Homo sapiens: one gene and its partners. The protein of the gene in region 2 purifies or fractionates together with the protein of the main gene of each other region. This does not show direct contact. Each region holds a gene or a part of one and is shown on either strand. Other genes may lie near its edges.

What was found.
Region 1: the proteins of OR4X2 (region 2) and TESMIN purify together in Homo sapiens (affinity purification with mass spectrometry; one large-scale study listed by BioGRID and IntAct). This does not show direct contact.
Region 3: the proteins of OR4X2 (region 2) and CIBAR2 purify together in Homo sapiens (affinity purification with mass spectrometry; one large-scale study listed by BioGRID and IntAct). This does not show direct contact.

Annotation. Positions count from the first base shown.
Region 1 is NC_000011.10:68,748,721-68,752,752, forward strand, and holds the start of TESMIN (tesmin), read right to left. Parts: upstream 2,801-4,032; 5' UTR 2,700-2,800; intron 1,980-2,699; 5' UTR 1,941-1,979; coding exon 1,470-1,940; intron 1-1,469.
Region 2 is NC_000011.10:48,243,623-48,246,515, reverse strand, and holds OR4X2 (olfactory receptor 4X2), read right to left. Parts: upstream 1,413-2,893; coding exon 501-1,412; downstream 1-500. UniProt on the Homo sapiens protein: Odorant receptor.
Region 3 is NC_000016.10:85,109,673-85,113,879, forward strand, and holds the start of CIBAR2 (CBY1-interacting BAR domain-containing protein 2), read right to left. Parts: upstream 2,801-4,207; 5' UTR 2,681-2,800; coding exon 2,661-2,680; intron 789-2,660; coding exon 554-788; intron 1-553. UniProt on the Homo sapiens protein: May play a role in ciliogenesis. In cooperation with CBY1 may facilitate ciliogenesis likely by the recruitment and fusion of endosomal vesicles at distal appendages during early stages of ciliogenesis.

The sequences.
Region 1 (4,032 bases), about 21 Mb from region 2:
AGTCAATAAAAATTTAAAAAGCAAAGTCTCTCCTTTAGTTTGTCAGACCAGCAATCTCTTAAAATTGGATTAAAGAGAATTTTACTATCTTTAACATCAGAGAATTCTCTTGTGTGTGTTTTGTTTGTTTTTTAAGACAGGGTCTCACTCTGTCGCTCAGGCTGGAGTGCAGTGGTGCAATCTCGGCTCACTGCAGCCTTCGCCTCCCAGGTTCAAGCAATTCTCCTGCCTCAGCCTCCCGAGTAGCTGGGATTACAGGTGTGCGCCACCACACCCGGTTAATTTTTGTATTATCTTCCCTGTTCTGATTAATGCTTTCTGACTCCACTCTGTGAGGAAATGAGCCGAGCTAGGACCTACGGGCAGGAGGCGCTGGACACCAATCCGGCTGGGCAGCAAAATGCAGTTCTTAACATTTCAAGCCCTCTGAGAAAGGCTGTGAGAAAGACCTCTGTCCTGGGAAACGGCTGGGGGAACTGGTGAGCTCTATGGCTCCTCTGAGGACAAACAGAGGTCAGTGGAGGCCCCAGCCTCTGCCCATCCTTTTCCTGTACACTAAGGACTGGCAATTACCATAACAGAAAACCGGAAGAGCAGAAATCCAAGCTCCTGCTGCTCTGGCTTATGATACAGGGTCAGGCTCCAGCCATCTCAATACTGACTCAAGCATTGTGTCCCACAAACGCTTCATCTACAACTTACTAAAATGACCTCATGGATGAGTGGTCTCGTTTTCTGAGCTGGGTCCTTTTTGAGGGGTCGAGAACACATTTTCCTGGGACCCTTTGTTTCCTTTGAAAACTCATTAGTTTTGGCAAGAACAAAGCGGAAAATTATCAGCGGTCATCTACAGCTAGAGAGGGCAGTCGGCTGAGAGCTGGCAAGCATTTCTTTAGGCTCTGATTTACATTGCATATGCTTGAAGAGCTATTACTCATTAGCAAAGGGAAGATCTCACATCTTGACTTCAAGGCCCGGAAAATCCAAGTATTAACTCTGAGTCCTTGCTGTGGATTCCAAGCCTGGTAAAGTTAAAGGAAAAAAAAAATGCAAGATGCAAACACGCCAACCCTCCACCACATTGCGTTTGTTTTCACAGACAATAGTTACCAGCAGACAGCGGGCCTCTCTCCTTAAGCCAAGGATAGCAACAGGGCCCAAGGGAACCTACGTCCTAGCTTTCCCCCTTTTTTTGTTGTCCGCCGTCTGCATGGTTAGGTCAGCTTTGGACGACTGGTGCAGGGCAGAATTCCCTCCAGGGGAAAGGGCTTGGCTGGGCCGATGCATGTTGGATTAGGAAGACGACAAAGAGTATACGCTCTACCGAGAATCAGTGACTCCGGTGGGCTGTGTGTGGTGTCACCAGGGAAAATGCTTGTAGAGGGAAATCCTGGGGTACACTAGCAGCCTCAGATGGGTTGGGGAAGGGATGGAGGGGGAGCTGTGCCCATTCCCCAGGCGGTTCTTACTGGGATCATGCGGACGCCCGGGTGGGAGGCTCCTTCCAGGACCCAGGCGCCCAGGGGCAACACCGCCGGGCTGCGGTGCGCGGGTAGCAGCGAGGACAGGAAGTGCACGTTGCAGGCGGGCGGCTGCGGGGCCTGCAGGAGCGCGACGTCCTCCAGCGCGCTGAGCTCTGGGATCCCGGGGTACTCCCCGAGGAGCTCCCCGCCGTCGCTGTCGCCCCCCGCGAGCTTCGCCTTGACCTGGCCCTTGCAGTCGGCGCCCAGCGCGGGGTTGAACGCGTGCAGGACGGGTTCCTTGGGGTCCGCCGGGCCCAGGTACGCTTCTTTGAAGACGTGGAACTCGTCCTCCTCGTACTTCACGGGGGCCTTCAGGCCGATGTTCTCCGAAGCGAACGGACCCTCGGGGCTTAAGAGCTCCGTCACCATCGCATCCTCGGGGCTGGGCAGCCCGCCCGGCAGAGGGCCCTCCTCCATGGCGCAGGGCGGCGGGGCGGGATGGCGGGGGCCGCGCACCTGCAACACGCGGCCAGGTGAGAGGCAGCCAGAGGAGAGGACGAGGGGAGGGGCGGCCAGGAAAGGGGACAGCCAAGGGAGGGGCAGCCAAGGGAGGGGCGGCCAGGGGAGGGGACCAGGTGAGGGGCGGCTAGGGGAGGGGGCGGCCTGGTGAGGGAGGGCCAGGTGAGGGGCCCGGGGAAGGGCGACCAGGTGAGGGGGTCAGGGGAGGGGCGACCAGATGAGGGGCGATTAGGTGAGGGGCGGCCAGGTGAGGGGCGGCCAGGTGAGGAGCGACCAGGGGAGGCGGTCAGGTGAGCGGCGACCAGGGGAGGGGCGGCCGGGGAGGGGGTCACGGGAGGGGCGACCAGGGGAGGGGCGGCCAGGGGAGGGGGCCAGGTGAGGGGCGGCCAGGTGAGGAGCGACCAGGGGAGGGAGTCAGGGGAGGGGCGACCAGGTAAGGGGCGGCCAGGAGAGGGGCCGGCCGGGGTGGGGGTCAGGTGAGGGGCGCCCAGGGGAGGGGGCCAGGTGAGGGGCGGCCGAGGAGGGGGTCAGGTGAGGAGCAGCCAGGGGAGGGGGGGCCAGGTGAGGTGCGACCAGGTGAGGGGCGGCCTCGCCCACGGCCCGCCGCCCTCCGCCCACCCGCAGGGGCCCGACCCGGCCCGGCAGCCCCCATCCCCGCCTGCAGAGCCGAGGCCCAGCCCGGGGACCGCCCCGTCATTCCTCCTCGGAGGGACGCACCTGGGGCCGCCGGGGCTGCCGCAGCGTGGAGCGAGCGGGATGGGGCGTGGGCCGGGCCTCAGGCGCAGGCGGCCGTTGGCGGTTGGAGAAGGGGGAAGGGTGAGGGACAGGAACCTGGGGGGAGGGGAAGAGGCGCCCGGGCAGTGGGCGGGGCCTGGGCGTGGGGCGGAGTCGAGGTCGGGGCGGGGAGGTAAAGGCGGGGCCAGGGAGGTGTGGTGGGCGTGGTCTGGGGCGGGAGGAGACAGAGTCGCGAGGGGCGGGGCCTGGACTGCCGCTGTTGCCAGAGCGGGTCAGGGGAGGCACTCCCAGGTTCAGCCGATCCAGGCTCAGGTGGGGAAACTGAGGTCCCCATCAACTCGGGCAGCGCTAAGTGGGACTGCCTAGCTTGGCTTCTGACCTTGGGCTTCAGTTATATTTTTCTGGCCAGGCGTGGTTGCTCACGCCTGTAGTCCCAGCACTTTGGGAGGCCGAGGCAGGCGGATTACTTGAGGTCAGGAGTTCAAAACCAGCCTGGGCAACATGGTGAAACCCCGTCTCTACTAAAAATACAAAAATTAGCTGGCCGTGGTGGCACGCGCCTGTAATCCCAGCTACTTGGAAGGCTGAGGCAGGAGAATCGCTTGAGCCCGGGAGGTGGAGGTTGCAGTGAGCCGAGATCCCGCCACTGCACTCCAGCCTGTGCCACAGAGCTAGACTCCGTCTCAAAAAAATAAATAAAATAAAATAAAACATTTTTCTACACTCGAGCTCTCAAGACAGATCCCGGCCTGGGACGCTGCGGGTGGACAGAGGGCAGGGGCTTGCACCGCACGTTCCCAGCCTTGCACCCACTCCCGGTCCTTGGTGACGCAGCTTACAGGTGCAACTGATGGAGTTGGTCCCGAAATAGAAGTAACAAATACGGCTGGGCGTGGTGGCTCACGTCTGTAATCCCAGCACTTTGGGAGGCCGAGGCGGGTGGATCACCTGAGGTCAGGAGTTCGAGACCAGCCTGGCCAACATATAGTGAAACTCCGTCTCTACTAAAAAATACAAAAACTAGCTGGGCGTAGTGGCGCACGCCTGTAGTCCCAGCTACATAGAAGGCTGAGGCTTGAACCTGGGAGATGGGGGTTGCAGTGAGCTGAGATTGTGTCACTGTACTCCAGCCTGACCAACAGAGAAAGGCTCCCTCTCAGAAAAAAAAAAAAAAACTCACAAATACAATGAAAGTCTCAAATTTTGGGTGGGGAATGAGCTATTTCATCTTTAAGGAGTCAATAGATATCACTGTTTAATCAAGAGGAGGTGAAAGTTTAATTCAAGTGATGGCGAAAACTGCAAAGGGTGTAGA
Region 2 (2,893 bases):
GGGCAATGGTTTAGAGGGGAAGGGCTATAAAGTTACATTTTTCTCTCTGTAATTAATACCCCTTGGTGTCCTAAGGAAAGATACTTTGAAACAATGTAAAATCATTTCTTATCCAAAAAAAAGTGTTTAATGACAGGATTCTATTCTGTCAAGAGCACTTTCACAAGATAGGTGACTCAGTGTAACACTGTGCACCAAAAGTCTTTATACTCTAACACTAAATTCACTCTAGGAAATAAGCCTAAAAGAAAGTCAGAAGCATGGTTAAAAATGTCTATTCAAGAATATTAACTACAGTGTTATTTATGGTGGTAAAAAATTAGTACCTCCACAAAAAGAAATACTATTCAAGTTATGAAAATGAACTTTTTAAAGAGAGAGGCCAGGTAGAATAATCTGCAACTAACAGGTCCTGTGAACTTTCCTTCAACCTATTCTGCTCCTTCAGTTTGGACTCAACAGTCATTCTAAACCCAAGTATCAATACAAAGACTCAGCCTCTATTTCTCATTTAGTCTCAATGTCCTAATCCACAGCCTCTTCATGGCCTTCCTCATTTCAGCATTTCTCAGAGAGTAGATGACAGGGTTCAGGATCGCGGTTATCACTGTGTAGAACACAGCCACCATCTTGTCTATGGGCAGAGTGGTAGAAGGCCTCAGAGAGTTGAAGACGCAGGGCCCAAAGAACAAGATAACCACAGCGAAATGGGACCCACAGGTGGAGAGGGCTTTGCACCACCCTTCAGAGCTCCAGGTTCTCAGATGGAGCAAGATGACCATATAGGATGCTAAGAGGACCCCAAAACTGATCACAGACAGGGTGCCTCCATTGGCAACAATCAGCAGACCAATGAGGAAGGTGTCAGAGCAGGCAAGTTTGAGAAGGGGAACTAGGTCACAGAAATAGTGATTGATCACATTGGGGCCACAGAAGAGCAGGTGGAAGATGAGAAGGATTTGTGCAAAGGAATGCATGAAGCCTCCCACCCATGCTATTCCTACAAGGACAGTACACACCTGCCAGTTCATGATGGTGGTGTAGCTGAGGGGCTTGCAGATGGCCACATAGTGGTCATAGGCCATCACAGTGAGCAGGAAAATCTCAGTGCCACCAAAGAAGTGCAAGAAGAAAAGCTGTGCCATGCAGCCCCACCAAGATATGACTTTCCTTTCAGCCAGCAGATCTGAGATGAGTTTGGGGGCTGTAGCGGAGGAGTAGCAGATCTCCATGAAGGAGAGGTAGCTGAGGAAGAAGTACATGGGGGAACCAAGGCTTCTGCTGGTCATGACAGTGAGCACAATGAGGAAATTCCCCAGCACAATTGCTGTGTACAAGAACAGAAATATCACAAAGCAAACCCTCTGCACCTCCTGGTTGGGAGAAAGTACCAGAAAAATGAATTCAGTCATGTTGTGTATGTTAGCCAAGAGGTCATCATCAAGAGGCAGCAATTTGGGTGGTGTGATCTGAAATGATACAAAATACTTCTTCACTCAGTGGGTGAATTACATGAAAGCCCTTGCATAGCTGAGATGCTTCTGAGTTGGAAATTGAAAGGTGAGTAGGAGTTAGTTATGTGTAGAAGGGAAGAGCATTCCAAGAAGGCAGAGAGCAAGTACAAATGCTTTGTGTGTGGCTGGAATAAAGGGGAGAATAGCAAAAAAATAAAGCTGTAGATAGACATTAGTACCAATTTGTGAAGGACTGTTAGGGCCTTTGAGGACCCTAGCAGTCCCAAAGTGTTTTTCCTTTTAGTTGATGAACATGCTTGATGATTCCCCATTGTCTGCAGGATCAGACAAAGTCTGTAGTATGTAGAACTAAAGTGTGGAAAGGGCTGTCCAGTGGAAACAGATTAGAGGAGGAGCTCTATTAGGAAGTTAATAAGTCCCTCATTGGATGATGTGGAACAGCCAGGATAGTGTTACTGTCTCCATGTTAGATGAGTGTTTTAAATTATCTTGTGCCTACAGCTTTCCTTCATGCCACTTCCTTCTCCTTTTTTTTTTTTTTTTTTTTTTTTTTTTTTTTTTTCAGACAGGGGCTCACTTTGTCACCCAGGCTGGAGTGCAGTGGTGTGATCTTGGCTCACTGCAGCCTTGACTTCCCCCAGCTCAAATGATCCTCCCACCTCAGCCTCCTGAGTAACTAGGACTACAGGCATGTGCCACCATGCTCTGCTAATTTTTATATTTTTTGTAGAGATAGGGTTTCACCATGTTGCCCAGGCTGGTCTAAAGCTCCTGAGCTCAAGCAAGCCACCCACTTCAGCCTCCCGAAGTGCTGTGATTATAGGCATGAGCCACTGCTCCTGGCCTTCTTTTCTATCCTTGGTTTGCAGAACAGTGTCCTCAACCTCTCCACATACCATTCAGAGTCTTTAGAAGAGATATCCCTAGTGGACCTCCTTTGACAATCAACATCTCCTCTTATTTCTGCTTCTCCCTCTAATTCTCACATTCTACACTTGGTCACTTGGTGAGCTTGTCCCCTTCCAAGGGCCCAGCTCAACTTAATCCATGTATGATTCTCCTCTTTACTGGGGCTTTCACTTTCTCCAGTCACATCCTCCAGTGGCAACAAAGGTCCAACACCCCCCATACACACACACACACACACACACACACACACACACACACACACATCCCAGTGCCCCCTCATGCTCTGACACATCCTTCTCCACAGCCCAGGCTTTCAACACCTCAGAGCATCACCAAGACTGCTCAGGACTGATTGGCAGGCTGTCCCAGTCCATGCTGAACTCTGTCCAAGGTGGCTAAGGTTTTGTATATCCACATAGCCTCTCCTACAGTAACACTCCAGGCCACCTGAGCCTGGGAGCCAGATCACTTCCACTCACACCACAAGGCTTCCTTGCTTCCATGATTGG
Region 3 (4,207 bases), on a different chromosome or scaffold from region 2:
ATTTATTTTAGAGATGGAGTCTTGCTATGTTTCCTAGGCTGATCTTAAACTCCTGGGCTCAGACAGTCTGTCCACCTAGGCCTCCCAGAGTGCTGAGATTACAGGTGTGAGCACCTGGCCCTTTTTTATTCTTTTCTACAATTCATGGTGAGGAGTTTTCTGGGCTGGCAGGAATTTCTATTTTTAATTATTTCCTGAACACCCTGCAGCCTCCTTGCCCCTGACTCCCCACCAGGATTTCTGTTCCTTCCCGAGGCCCTCATAGGCCTTGGATGTGTCTCCTTCGGGGGTTCATGGAGCCCCCAGGGCTGGCTTCCTGGGTTTCCTTGCTTTGTTGACCCTTCATCCGACTCAGCAAAGCCTCCTAGGCTCTCAATCCTGCAGGTGGAGGTGTGACCCTGGAAAGGGTGTAAATGTCCATTGTCGGTGGATGTCTCTGGAGACACACCCATTGGCTGTGGCCACAGCAGGGCTCCTGCAGCCCTCAGGCCTGACCTTGGCATTGGAGCCTGGGTACCCCTCAGCATCCCAGACCCGGGCCGGCAGCACTCACCTGGGCCTGCCGGTAATCCTGCACTTTGGCCAGGTCCTCAGCGAAGCCCCTCATGGTGGCCCGCAGCTCGGGGTTCTCGGAGTTGGCAAAGTCGATGAGCTGCTTGACCAGCTGGTCCGCCTTGTCCCGCAGCCGGGCCGTCTTGCGCGTGTAGGCGGCCAGCAGCGAGCAGAACTGCCCAAAGTACTTCTCGGTGTTGGCCACGGTATTCTCCATCACCCTCACCTGGCTGTCCCTGTGGAGGCGGGGACCTGAGCAGCCATTCTGGGCAGAGATGCAGGGCCCCGGTCATGCCAAGAGCAGACAATAGCTATGAAAACAGGAGCTGCCACCAGCCGGCCTCTGGTGTGGCACGCACATGCCACAGGCTGTCACTCAAGGTGGCAGCATCACGGCCATTGAGGCTGATGAGGGGGATCTGCCTGGGCTGGTCAGTAGTGGGCAGGAATATAAATGCGGGCTTGGCTGCAGACCTGGCCTTTTTTTTTTTTTTTTTGGAGACAGAGTCTTGCTCTGTCACCCAGGCTGGAGTGCAGTGGTATGATCTTGGCTTACTGCAACCTCTGCCTCCTGGTTTCAAGTAATTCTCCTGCCTCAGCCTCCTGAGTAGGTGGGATTACAGGCGCCTGCCACCATGCCTGGCTAATTTTTGTATTTTTAGTAGAGACAGGGTTTCACCATGTTGGCCAGGCTGGTCTTGAACTCCTGACCTCAGGTGATCTGCCTGCCTTGGCCTCCCAAAGTGCTGGGATGACAGGCATGAGCCACCACGTTCGGCCCCAACTCACCTTTAAGGGCTCCCAATCCGGCGCCCCCCTGCAGCAGGTGCGCGATGACTGATCCACCGCATTCAGGCTTCTACGACAGCCAGGGAGGCCTGGCCTCTCCTGGGCCTCCTCACGCCCTCTCCTTTCCCTCATCCCCAGCGTGTAACTGTCCCTGCCTCTCTCCCTGTGACCAAAGTCCCCCGTGCAACCCTCTCATCAAATCCCTGACTCGAGAAACGCCCTGAGGAGCAGCCCTCTGTCCCGACAGACCCTAACTCTCTTGCCACCCTCACTGCAAAACACTCCACATGCACCGCCCTATAAGCAAGGTGCTGCTGGTATCACCATGTGAAAATGCAGTGAACTGAGGCCCAGAGAGGTGAAGCATCTTGCTACCGGTCACACAGCCAGACACAGCCTCTGTTCCCGCAGGTAGGGTCCTCACAGCCCCTGATTCAGCAGCACAGGGGTCAGAAGTCAGACACTGGGGCTCCTAGGCCCCCGACCCCAGGCATGTGCACCAGAATCCCTGGGAGGGGGCCTGAGAAGCTGCGTTTTAAAAACACATCCAGGCTGGGCACAGTGGCTCACGCCTGTCATCCCAGCTCTTTGGGGGGCCGAGGTGTGCAGATTGCCTGAGCTCAGGAGTTCAAGACCACCCTGGGCAACATGGTGAAACCCCGTCTCTACTAAAATACAAAAAATTAACCGGGCGTAATAGCACGCCTGTAGTCCCAGCTACTTGGGAGGCTGAGGCATGAGAATCGCTTGAGCCCAGGCGATGGAGGTTGCAGTGAGCCGAGATCGAGATGGCACCACTGCACTCCAGCTTGGGCTACAGAGTGAGAGTCCATCTCAAAAAAATAAAAGATAAAAACACATTGGTTGCTTGAGAGGTTGCCTGGAATTCGAACCTCAGAGGAACCAGGCGTGGAAATGAACGGGGCAGGGCAGGCAGGTTGTGAGAGCAGGGATGGCATGGGCCGGGGCAGTGTGGACTGGGTCCCCACAGAAGGGGGAGGCCTGGTTGGGGTTGAGGTGTGATGGGGGTTTTCCAGGTGGAGGCGAGAAAGGAAAGGGGATGAATTTGACTCCTCCAGATACACAGGCAGCGATGCTGGAGAAGCAGACGGAGGCCAGATTCTGGAAGCTTCTGTAGTCCCAAGCCCTGTCTTCCCTGAGCTGGATGGAGGTGGAGGCACCGTGGGAGGGAGAGCTCCCCTCACCCCCAACCCCCACCCCAAGCAGCAGGCCCTGCTGCCCTCATCTTTGTTGGTGCCCCGGGCCTCAAAACCCGACTTCCACCTCCCTCACAGCCAGGCTGGCGCTGGCCCACTCACCTGGAGAAGACGATGTTCATTGTGACCAGAGCTTTGGCTGTCCCGGTGCTGGGGAATAAGGACAGGGCCCCAGGGGTCCTGCAGGCCTGGGAGGAGCCGGGCAGGGCTGGGTGCAGCTGTGTGGCCTGGGCTCAAGGGACGCTGCCACCCGGTTGCTAGGCGATGGGGCCGCCCACGGCAGGCCCTAGGAGGAGCCGGTCGCCCGGGCAATGCCTCCCTGAGGCCGGCCTCCCCAGCCTCGCGTTGGCTCAGGAGCTGCTGAGAGAAGAGGGCACCCCACAGAGGCCCACACTCTCCCTTTGAAGATGGAGGCTCTTGTGGAATGGGGCTAGTGGCTGGGGCTCCCCAGGAGGTAGCAGGGAGAGATTTAGGGGGCTCAGGCCTGCGTGCGGCCACATGTGTGGGTCCTGCCCACTGGGCTCCTCCCTCCCTTCAGGGAAGCTGCCTGCCCCGAGCCTGCCACTGGCCTTTCTGGGGTCTAGTCTCAGGTGGGCGGGACATGGAAAAGCTCAGGTGGGGGGTGCAGACACACAGAGTAAACTCGGGCTCCCCAGGGTGGGGCAAGGAACCAGCTCAAAGGAGCGTCTTTCACGTTTTTATCATAATTGCATTGTTTTTTCCCTTATTATAAAAGCATTATCTGCTCACTGTTAGTAAAGTAAGATAATTAAGATACCACAGAAAGAAAATATAAATGCACATGTCAGATTGACTAGCTCAAGTCCAATACATTCCACTAATGGTATGATTTCTATGTCTCAATGTATAGACACTTTACCTTCAGAAAAGAAACATAAAAATCACGACAGTAAGGAACGGGGATGGGAGGCGGGCAGAGGAAGCGGCCCAGGCCTTACTCTGCCGTTCTGTTACTTTGTATGTTTGGAGGCTTTCATTATGGAAATGGAAAGGGTTTTTTGTTTTGTTTTGTTTTTAAAGCATATATAAAAGCAAGGACTTCAGGGTCAGCTAAATACAGGTTCAAATCCCAGACCCCGCTCTGCTGTGTGACCTTGGGCAAGTCCCCTGACCTCTCTGGGCTTCAGTCCCCTCCCCTGCAGAATGGGCTCATGACAGTACTCAGTTAGGAGAAGTAAGTCCCTGGCATGGGGGCGAAGGGACAGACACAGAGGCTGGGGCGGGGACCCAGAACTCATTGAAATTCCCAGTGCACAGGCCCAGGCTGGTGGCGGCTTCCCTCTGTGACCGATCCCCAGGTGCCCACTGGGCTGTGCCGGCTGGCTGGCCCCTCCTCACGCTTCTCCAGTGATCTCATCGTCACACTCTCTCCAATCGTCCCTTTGCAGATGCCCTGCCCTGTGTTCCCCGGAGTCCCCGAACAACGCATGGACCACCCCAGCTCTGTCCCTGCTGGGTCCCCATTCTCTGTCTGGGGCATGAACCCCCACAACCTCCCACGGGATGGCTCTAAGTAGCCCCCTGGGGTTCCACAGTCAGCGTGGCTCCTCCCTTTCTGTGCCAAGCTGTGGGGTGGTGGGGTCCTGTGTCCCCTTTGTGCCGTGCAGCCGTCGCTGAGCGCCAGTCAA